3 linked regions of the Homo sapiens genome follow. The protein of the gene in region 2 interacts with the protein of the main gene of each other region in a biochemical or structural test. Each region holds a gene or a part of one and is shown on either strand. Other genes may lie near its edges. The genes, in order: LRIG1, ERBB4 and LYN.

Evidence for each region.
Region 1: the proteins of ERBB4 (region 2) and LRIG1 form a complex in vitro, tested with the Homo sapiens proteins (one study listed by BioGRID).
Region 3: the proteins of ERBB4 (region 2) and LYN form a complex in vitro, tested with the Homo sapiens proteins (one large-scale study listed by BioGRID).

What each region holds. Positions count from the first base shown.
Region 1 is NC_000003.12:66,392,880-66,396,533, forward strand, and holds part of LRIG1 (leucine-rich repeats and immunoglobulin-like domains protein 1 isoform 1 precursor), read right to left. Parts: intron 1,325-3,654; coding exon 1,161-1,324; intron 1-1,160. UniProt on the Homo sapiens protein: Acts as a feedback negative regulator of signaling by receptor tyrosine kinases, through a mechanism that involves enhancement of receptor ubiquitination and accelerated intracellular degradation.
Region 2 is NC_000002.12:211,384,289-211,387,942, forward strand, and holds part of ERBB4 (receptor tyrosine-protein kinase erbB-4 isoform JM-a/CYT-1 precursor), read right to left. Parts: intron 2,863-3,654; coding exon 2,565-2,862; intron 1-2,564. UniProt on the Homo sapiens protein: Tyrosine-protein kinase that plays an essential role as cell surface receptor for neuregulins and EGF family members and regulates development of the heart, the central nervous system and the mammary gland, gene transcription, cell proliferation, differentiation, migration and apoptosis.
Region 3 is NC_000008.11:55,998,294-56,001,947, forward strand, and holds part of LYN (tyrosine-protein kinase Lyn), read left to right. Parts: intron 1-52; coding exon 53-206; intron 207-1,124; coding exon 1,125-1,256; intron 1,257-3,654. UniProt on the Homo sapiens protein: Non-receptor tyrosine-protein kinase that transmits signals from cell surface receptors and plays an important role in the regulation of innate and adaptive immune responses, hematopoiesis, responses to growth factors and cytokines, integrin signaling, but also responses to DNA damage and genotoxic agents.

The sequences.
Region 1 (3,654 bases), on a different chromosome or scaffold from region 2:
ATAATGGAGCTGTGCGAGCATTAGATTCCACACAGAAGGCTCCATAAGACAGATCGGTATGAAAAGTCAGTTTGGAGAGCTGCTGCCATGTTCGCAGTGGGTTTAAGACGTGTCCCTGGTCTGGATCCAGAGGAAGTTCAGCAGGCCTGTTCTCAAAAGTGGTGATGGTGAAGGTAGGGGTGGATGCATGGAGAGGGCACACACATCTTGCCTCCAGCAGGCACACTGGCTACTCCAGCAGGCACAATGGCTATTGCTATGGCCAGAAAGTAGGAGACAGAAGTGGCCCACAAGGGTTGCCATATGGATGGGTGAGTTCCTGGTTAGGATCCTCACAGCAGGGATCTCAAGGCTCAAGGGAGACCAGTGAGCACAAAAGGCAGGAGGGACTTAACACCTGCCCAGCAGTTCCAGTCAGGCCTGGGAATCCCACTCTTGCTCCTGCTTAGAGCAAGCAAACAGGAAAAACTCAAAATTCATCTCATTTTTTGACCATGTCTTCCTGACCGTGAGCCTGTGTCAGTCCTGTCTGAGCTAGCCTGCGTGTGTGTTTTCAGCTGTTCAGCATTTTCTGTGCTCTCTGCAACCAAACTTGGATCCCGACTCCCAGTCAAAAAGATGGCAAGAGCTACGCTCCAGGAATCAGAAGGCAAAAAGAATGTAAAGCTGCAAGTGCAGATTTCAGTGGTTTGGAGAAACAGCAAGAGTACAAGTCAACATCAAGGAATTATTTTTACTACAGCAACTGTTCTCCTGAGACTTGTTCTTCCTGTATTTAACCTTTCATTCTTGGGGTCGGAAAGAAACACACATTAAAACGCCAGCCTCGTACGCGGAGTACATTCGCAGCTAAACCCGGGCACCAGAGCCCTTCTGAAACAACAGAACTATCTTCCTGTAACTGATTATTCTGATTTGTAACTGAACCAACTTATACTCCCTTCTGATTAAATGCATGTCCTCCAAGAACCACATAATGAGGCAACTCTACGGTAAATACTGTGTGTGGTTTCAGCAAGAAATAAATTGCATCCAGCAGCTGATCTGTAACCACGGGCTGGGGTTTACTCTGATCACAGGAATTACTCCCATAATGAAGAGTACCTCCTGGCTTCCTTGTCCTTCATGAAGGAGAGAAAAAGTTACAAAGACAGTCTTACCGCACACGAAACTCTCTGGTGGCACAGAGAAAATGCTCTGACCCTTCAGTGATTCTGGGTGGGCACAGGTGGCTGTCACAAAGGCCTGCAGCATCCTGCCAATTAGCCACGGGGGCAGCCACTTCAGCTGGCAGTCACACAGGAAGCTGTCGCTGCTGATATGGCTGAAAGAAACACAACAGTGGATGCTTCAGGTGCAGCCGCAAAGGAGGGACACTCCCTTCACACACACAATGATCAGTCGCCTCCAATCAGCTTCTCAAGTGAACATCAGCAAGCTGGAAGGGGGAAATGGTTTTTCTCACACTTCCTCTCCAATTTCCCAGGGCAGTGCATATAACCCACCTGGAGATTTTGAAAAAATGCAGTTGCTGATTGGGTGGGTCAGGAGTGGAACCCACGACTCTGCTAACAAGTTCACGTATCATGCTGGGGCTGCTGACCCAAGGACCGCAACTGGAGCAGCAGCAACGTGGAGCTTATCCATGCCATGTTCTGGGACAGACACTGTTCCTGTGTGACCCTGGGCTGCCTTCTGACCTCTCCTGACCTCTGATACATCCAACAGTGCTATGCTGCCACCATCCCCCCTCTGGTTTTTCCCACTTTCCTGATAAACTACTTGGAGCTTCCAAACTCGGCCTGAGACTTTGATCCAAATTCTGCAACAAGTTCCGAGGAGGGCTCTTTTGCCTCATGGCTGTTCCTTTTCCATTTGGCAAAGCTGCATGTTTTCTTACTTCCAAATGTAATAAGCCCCGTCACTGTGCCACCCTCTTGTTTGTGCCTTGATCTTTGCACCAGTATTCTTCAGGGGGCCGGCAGAATTCGGCTCTGCTCCCTAAATAGTGCTTGTTAGTTAATTGCCACTGCCCAGGGAGCATGAGAATGCACAACTTTAGCTTTGTGGGGCTCCAACCAAAACAGAGAATATTTTCTTTTTCATTTCTCAGCAACTAAGGATAAGCTTTTTAAACAGAAATCGGAATCGCCATCTCAGCGGACATTCCTTCCTGAGGAGTCACTTGAAGATAAGTCAACCAAGAGTCTAGCTGCCTTGTTCCTGGAAGACCTCAGAGCTGTGAGCTAAAGAATGATGGCTGGCCCACGATAAGGGAAGACTGGGAAAGAGAGCACACAGGCTTCCCTGCAATACACTGTCTCTGGTACATGGTGACAAACAGGAGGCACAGGTATGCGCAGAAATTCCAAAAACATCATGCAGGCCAAGAGCACGACTTTGGCTGCCTTCTCCACCCACCACTGTCCTCAGACATCAACAAAGCAACCAAATGGACTGGCCTTCCATTTTCTTCTGTTTCTCTCCAGATTTCTAATGAGCAGAGAAACTGTCACAGCAAGGAAGAATGAAGTGTAAGCAGATGACCCAAGGCTAAATTAAGTAAAATCCACTCTTCCTCATGTTCCCCATCACCCCTAGATGAGTTGGGCATCTTATTAAAATAATTATAATTTTGGAAAGTGCTTTTCCAAAAACAGAAATAACTTATCTCAAGGCCATTATAACTGGGATGCTGGCCCATATTAGATCTTAAAATCAGCATGAGAGTTTGCATTTTTATTTCACGGGCAGGTAGCGTTCTGCTGAGAGCCATCTGGAGGGCTGTCCTACTGTGGAGTCACTGCAGGTGGCGGAAGGGCTGTAACGGCCATCCCTGAGGAAATGGTCAATTCCCATGCAGTGTTTGGGGAGGGCAGCTCCCAGGAGTGCACCCTGCATGGGGGTCAGGGCTGGCTGCGCCAGGCATGGGGGGAACTCAGCCTGGATGGAGAACTCTCCGCTGTCAGAAGCACCTCCAGCTCCCCAGCAAGAGGGCACTTCCGTGCAGTCAGGCAGAACAGCCTGGGCACTGTTCACGAAAGCCTAGGAGAGAAGGCTGGGCCATCCCTGTGCGACGTTAAGCATTTGTGCAGGACACAAGGACATATTCCATTTGAACCACAGGAACAAACGGGAAAACAAATTTGACATTTATCTTTGATCAGACACATGTAGAAAGGGCTAAGCCTCATCCTACACACGCCCTGGACGTGTGGGGCTAACGCCTTTGAGGATTTCCTACTTCTTCCACCATGAAACCCACCTCAGACAGGAGGCCAGACTCCAGGAAGACAGTGGGTACTCAGGGTGGAGACAGCATGTTCCTAAACAGCAAGTTAGGACTGAGAGGATACATGGGGAGGGCCTGGGGCCAGGCAGTAGCGAGGATTCCAACCCCTAGGCTCTGCAGGCTCCTGCCGCCCTTCTTCCACCCGTGGAGAGCACAGCGCCATCGGCTCTACTGCCTTCTGCTGCCATCCCAGGGCTTTGCTGGCTCACATGGTGCATTTTCACGATTCCAACTCAAAGTGTGTTTCTAATCATCACTTGTGGAAATTTACCCAGAGGATGACTAAGTGCACAGTACAACCTGACTTGATCTGATGGAGAAAAAGACGACCAAGTGGAATTAACCATTTCTCTCATCTGAGG
Region 2 (3,654 bases):
AATTTCTATCTCCTAAATTTTTCTTTCTTTCTAATTGCATTTGTCTCTTCTGCATATGGGGCTGGTTGTTTCAATGTTTTTGTTTTCTAAAAGTTATTTATATTAGGAAATAAGACTACCTATTAGGATTAAATAGTCTTTAAATATACAGACAACTTAACTTCTATAAAGGATATTGAAAAAACAAGAATCTATAGCTGAGTTCCATGCCAAGATGAATAGATGGAGTGAAGAAATCATGTTTTTTAGTCTCTATGGTTTGCTATGATTGCCTATACTGGTAACAAGGATTTAATTGGAGATGCTTCTGAAAAAGGTTTTACACATGGAAAAGAAAGCATCAAAGGAAAAAAATTCAACTAAAAAAGCAAATCTAACAGATAGCTAACATGCCTCTAGTTGACCTGCTTGACATTACATATACTTCTACTTAATAGTAAAGTATAATTATAATATTTCCATTGACCAATCATAATCACAAAGTAGCAAACTATCAGCTTGAATTATATAAAATAAAATAAATTTTGTATATTGAAACCAGTCAATTAGTGCCTATTTTGTACGGATCAATCTAATAAATCCATCTAGTATAGGTATTGGCCTAAAAGGTGCTAATAATTATCACCATTCTCCTGAAGCTTAATTCCACATCTATGTCTATAATATAGACTGCACATAGACATAAACACGCATGTATTGTAAGTCCTCTGACAGTCCTCTCTTTTACTATATACACAAAGCCCTAAGCTATTCCTATTTTGAATTCAAGGCATGAAGAGGGCACAATTCTTTGTTGAGAGGCCATTCTGAAACAAACTTTCTGTCTTTTATCCTTAGCCCAATAAGTAGAGAGAAAAATCCTATTAAGTGAGGATTATTTTTCTCCAAATATATATATACAGAATAGGTAAGTATTTAGCATCATTTATTCAACTTAAAGGGCAGTAATGAATATCCCACTATCATATATAGGCCTTTACAAGACACTATCATTTCATCCTCCCAATTCTGTGAAAAAGAAGTACAAGACTTATTTTTCCAGCTTTGTAGACAGAAAAATGAGATTAAATGATGTGTGCAGGATACAATTAGTGTTGGGATAGAATTCAGGTCTTCTAACTCCTCTTGCATAATCTTCTTATTCTACTGCACTGTTTTTTATTATTGCCCCTGCAGGAGTTGGGTGAACTTTATGCTTAGTAACAAGTTTTAATTTGACAAGTGTATGAAAACATTTATAAGGAATGCAGAATTTGGTCTCTCTTACCAGATTCCTTAAACTTCTTAATTGAAAGAATAGGAATGTCTACACTAAAATTCTGTACTCTCTGAGTACGAGGTTAGACTATAGCAACCTTTTATAGAAACGGAGCTTAGTGTTCAGAGATAAAATCTGAGAATACAGTGTGACTCTATAGGGTGACTTGCTTTTCTCTTCACCTTACCTTTCCTCAATGCAATCTACTTATATATTGTCCTCATGCAAACTTATATAGCTGTCCAATAACTTTACGGTTGGAGTGAAAATCTCCCCAGAAAAGATTCTTCTTTGGGGTGAATCTGCCAAGTCTTCACAACGTCTACATTTGTGTCATTACTAGGCTACTATGAGCATCCAAACTCTTCATTACATTTTTATATGTATAGAAGTTTTAGATATGTAAAAATTTTATCTAGACAGATATATTTTAAAAGGTTATTTACAATTAGAGATCTCTAAATTTTACTTTAAAGGAGAGAACATAACCATATACCAGGCCCTTCTCAGAGTCTTAAAATGTAGTTTACTGTTGACACTAAAGACTGCGAGAGACATGATCATCATTTTTTAATAACAATCATCTATCTTCTCTGTTGTGATACTGTTAGCATAGAAGAAGAAAGGCTGTTTTGTTGCAAAATTGAAGCATTATTTGATTTGGGTGCTTAACATTTCTACTACTAACTTTACAAAATTATTGTTATGCTTTGTAAAACCACAGATTATTATTTTCAAATCTTGGTGGTATGCTTGTAAGTATATACAGGGTCAAACCTTTAATTTTTGAAAAACGTCATATAAGAACATAATATTTTCCTATAATAAACTAGGTTGTTTAAATGTCATCATTTAAATGAGTCAAACAAATCTTTTATTAGTGCCATCAAAAGCATCAGGCACTTTTGCCAACAATACCAGTCTTTCTGATCTCCGCAATTAAGTCCAATAAAGCTATGGTCCTGACACTTTGTAGTATGCTACTTCATTCAAATATTTCAACAAAATATGTTTAGAATAGTGCTTCTCAAGACTGATTGCTGTATGCAGATAGCCTGGGGATCTTGTTAAAATCCAGATTCCTATTCAGACGGGGCCTGCCTGAGATTCTGATTTATATAAATAATAATAAATAATGTGGATGCTGCTGATTCAGGGACCATACTACAAGTAGCAGTAGCCTAGGCCTTTACTGGATCACAAATGTTGTGCTGGTCAGCTATCTGGCAATTTCTATTCTGTACTTTGTTTATCTTGATGGAAGTGAACTTCGAATGGCGATCGTTTCTGAATAATCAGTTCATACCTTGTTTGGGTTTGTCTCGCATAGGAGTCATGTAACCTTCCTCATCCAGCTCTCCTCGTGGGCTCCGTTCTGGGGCAAACACGGTGGGGTCAGCACTGTACCTCTGGGTGCTACTGTCCTCTTGGACATGGGGTGCCACTGGCTTGCGTAGGGTGCCATTACAGCAGGAGTCATCAAAAATCTCAGCAGTAGCACCCTGTGCCACAGGAGCTTCTGGAATTGTGCTAGTTGGGGCTCTGTAGGGCACAGACACTCCTTGTTCAGCAGCAAAACCTCCATCTCGGTATACAAACTGGTTCTGTTAATAAGAGAAACATATGTGGAGAGAAGGCGTTGTTAGAAATAGTTTAAAAATGAATGTTAATAGCCACAAGGATATCAAAGCCAGTCTTTCAGAGAATAGTCATAGTATTTACTGGTTTTTTTTCCCCTAGTGGCTAATGGAGTTACAAACTATAAACACCTAAAATTTCCACTTTTCTTAAAAGATAAATCATCAGAAAATAATTTTGAAATACACATTCTAGTTTTATTAACCAACTGAAACATATTCTAATAAAATGTATTTGATGCCCTTTTCCCACAAGTGCCTATATTTAATACAAATTTCAAAGTGAATTTTTATGATAAATGCAAGTGTCATTAATTATAGACAGTTGTCATTAAGAATAGAAGTACATGGATATATTTTGAATAATCCTATGTCTTTATTCCCTTCGAAAATTCTGTGGTTATTATGAATTTGAGGCTCTAGTACCTAACTAGAGGATCATCACTATAATTCTGACTTTTTAGTACATGACCAATAATCAGGGAAGTAAAGATCACCTCCACATCCAGAAGCATAATTTATGTGCCCAGGTAAATCCTTCAGATAAAAATTGAAAGCTACTGTTGATGCATGATATCTCAATTTCGGATTATCAGCTGAGATAAAAACACATCTACAAAGGCAGCTACACGATGTACACCAAATTCTTAACTCACTGTTGGCAAAGGCAAAATGAGGAAATTATGCAGAGACGAGAGAGGAAACATGGTAAGCAAAGACCGAAAATCCTAAAAGATGAAGGTTGATTGTGAAATACTT
Region 3 (3,654 bases), on a different chromosome or scaffold from region 2:
TTTCCAGTCACCTACCCTACATATGAAAATGGGAGCCTATTTCTGTTTTCAGATTGCAGAGGGAATGGCATACATCGAGCGGAAGAACTACATTCACCGGGACCTGCGAGCAGCTAATGTTCTGGTCTCCGAGTCACTCATGTGCAAAATTGCAGATTTTGGCCTTGCTAGAGTAATTGAAGATAATGAGTACACAGCAAGGGAAGGTATGTTGCACTAATGATCTTTAGATGTTTTATTATTGTGTTTTATTTTGTTTTTGTCTGTTTTTGACAAAGCAATTACAATAGTCACCATTAAGAAAAACTTATTTGGTACAACATTTAAGCTGTACCATAATTGTCTGCTTATGGTTCTATTCTAATAGTTTCTAGAAGGTACTCTCTTGATTAACTCCACATGATACTTTTGTTAGGCTTACAAATGCTATCAGTTGTATTTCAATTAAGCAATGCAAAACACAAATAGATTCAGCAAGATGATTCTTGTTTATTTTGTATTGTTAAAGTTTTCACTCAAACAATGAATATAATATACGGGGCTGTGGAGAAAATATTTGTAACATTAATTCTATATTGTTTATTCCAGCCTTTTAATTACAAATTAAAACATGAACATTACCATACACACAGAACTAAATATAATGCAAAAAATCTACTTCTTTATTTTCCCACATTCTGTATTATATATATGAACCAAAAATGCACAGAGAGGCCTAAGTTCCCCAGCCTGTGGCACATTGTCAGGGGGCCAAGCATGGTCGGGACTGCAGGGCCTTTCTTGGGCTAGGATTGCCCACGTGGTTATGACTGAGGATTCTTATGCTCTCACCCACGAGAGCTGAGCAAATATTTTTGCAGTGCTCACTGTCTTCTGGAAGAGACAAGCACTTTCTTGAAATTCCTAAGCATTGTTGAACAAGGATTATTATTATTTTATTATTTTGAACCTGGGAGGTGAAGGTTGCAGTGAGCCGAGATCGCATCATTACATTCCAGCCTGGGTGACAAGAGTGAAACTCCGCCTCAAAAAAAGAAAAGAAAAGAAAGTATGGGGTCACATGTTCATGACTTTTTTGTTTAAGTTTAAATACCCAAGTAAGAACCACATATCTTCTTCCTTAGGTGCTAAGTTCCCTATTAAGTGGACGGCTCCAGAAGCAATCAACTTTGGATGTTTCACTATTAAGTCTGATGTGTGGTCCTTTGGAATCCTCCTATACGAAATTGTCACCTATGGGAAAATTCCCTACCCAGGTATGGTTTACTTAGCTATTTACAATCAAGCTGTATAAATGAGAAAAAGTCAGGTTGCATGAAGGCATTAAAAAGTAATAATTACTTCATCTACCCGATAGCAAAGAATAAGTGCTTTGAGCCAGAACTTGATTTTCACGGGCTGGGCATGGTGGCTCACGCCTGTAATCCCAGCACTTTGGGAGGCCGAGGCAGGTGGATCACCTGAGGTCGGGAGTTGGAGACCAGACTGACCAACATGGAGAAACCCCGTCTCTACTAAAATTACAAAATTAGCCAGGCATGGTGACGCATGCCTGTAATCCCAGCTACTCGGGAGGCTGAGACAGGAGAATTGCTTGAACCCGGGAGGTGGAGGTTGCAGTGAGCTGAGATCGCGCCATTCCACTCCAGCCTACACGACAGAGTGAGACTCCATCTCGAAACAAAAAAAAGACTTGATTTTTATTTTCACTATCTTTAGCATAAATTGTTCTAAGAGTGCTTAGACACTTCTTTGCCTCCTTATTTTGAGTGTGTGTTCTTGTTCTGCACTGATTAATTCCACCACATACTAGAATGTTCCGGGCATGGTTGTTGGTGTCGAGATGAGGATGGATAGACACAGGGGCTCCTCCAAGGCAGTCCCCCTGACTGGAAGGAGGAAACCCACATGGAGACAAGGATTTCCGATGCTTGGTTTTGTAATAAGTGCCCTGGAGTCTCTCTCTCTTCAAGAAATAACCACCTTTGTTTATCAGTGGGAGGCCCTTCTGCTCTTTAACATACTGGTATCAGTGAGGGCATCATTCAGTATTTATTTCCAGATTCCTAACACCTGAAGCCTGCAGAGCCAGATTCTGACCATCCCTCCATTTTTCCATGGTCTGTGCTGGCATGGTTAAGAAGAGGGATTTCGGCCAGGTGCAGTGGCTTACACCTGTAATCCCAGCACTTTGGGAGGCTGAGGTGGGTGAATCACGAGGTCAGGAGTTCGAGACCAGCCTGGCCAACATGGTGAAACCCCGTCATTACTAAAAATACAAAAAATTAGCTGGGCGTAGTGGTGGGCATCTGTAATCCCACCTACTTGGGAGGCTGAGGCAGGAGAATCACTTCAACCTGGGAAGCACAGGTTGCAGTGAGCCGAGACTGCACCCCTGCACTCTAGCCATGGCGACAGAGTGAGACTCTGTCTCAAAAAAAAAAAAAAAAAAAAAAAAAAAAGAGGGATTTCTCCCAGAGCCTTCATATTTTCATTTATGTTTGACTATTAACAAAATATTTGCATGAGGGGAATTTAAAATTAAATTTTTAATGTTTAAATCTTTCTCCTATTCAAAAAATATTTGAGTATGCTAGGCACTCTCAGCTGCTAGGATGCCATGGTATCTGCCCATGTCCTTGAGAGTGAATATTGTAGTGGGGAGAGACTGATGTTTATCAAACACACAGCCATCCTGTAGGGTGGTGAGAGTAGTGTGGAGCCTGCGTGGAGTGGCTTAGGGATTGGCGAGTACTCACAGAAGGGGGTGGGGAGCTGCTGGTTTTATTCCATGGTCCTGGCAGCAGCAGGGACTCACAGAGGGAGGGAGTCTTGGGCTCTCTGAGGTCTGCATGTCCCCATGGGGAGAGCAGCCAGAGCATGGGCTTGGCCAACAGGAGCAGGAGGCCAGCGTGGTTTGGGCCTCTGTGAGTATTTGATGGATGGATGGGTGAATGAATGAATGAATGAATGACGCACCTAGGCCATTTGATCTCTAGACAGTCGATGGATGAGAAAGAAGGCTATGTAGCTGGGGGTTAGAGTGGCTCAGGGAGAGACTTACTGGCCATGTAAGAGCAGCCCCTCTTACTCTGCTGAGATGCAAACCAGGGAAGGCTTTTGGACAGAGCAGCCACACAGTCTGCGTGCTCCCATCACTACTGTTTCATGTGGGGATGAGCCACAGAGAAACTGGGGCAGGGACCAGTTGGCAGCTGAAAGCCTTTGGGTGGTGTCTGCCTGCACAGTGGACCGGCTGTCCCAGGAAATCCCTTTAGTGCCAGCATTTCATCTTCCAGCTGCTCTAGACACTGAGATTAATGAATTAACATTGCTGCAAAATAGGAAAAATATTTCTAATCAGCCCCAGTGTCTGATGTTATATATCTCTATCTCCATCTATGCCTACATCTCTTTCTATAATCTGTCTGTAGAGAAAGATTATATAGTCAGATTATGTATATAATCTGACACCTGATAAACATACAATCTCATAAAAGAATGTTTTGTGATATGCGTGGTGTGCTGCATGTGATGTGCTACCATGGCCCCTGAGGCTTGGAGAAGGTGATTGGGCCCCTCGCTGGTGGCAAAGCTGCTCTGAGCCCCAGATCCATGTGCCTCCCAAGACCCCTCAGCCAATGTGCACAATGC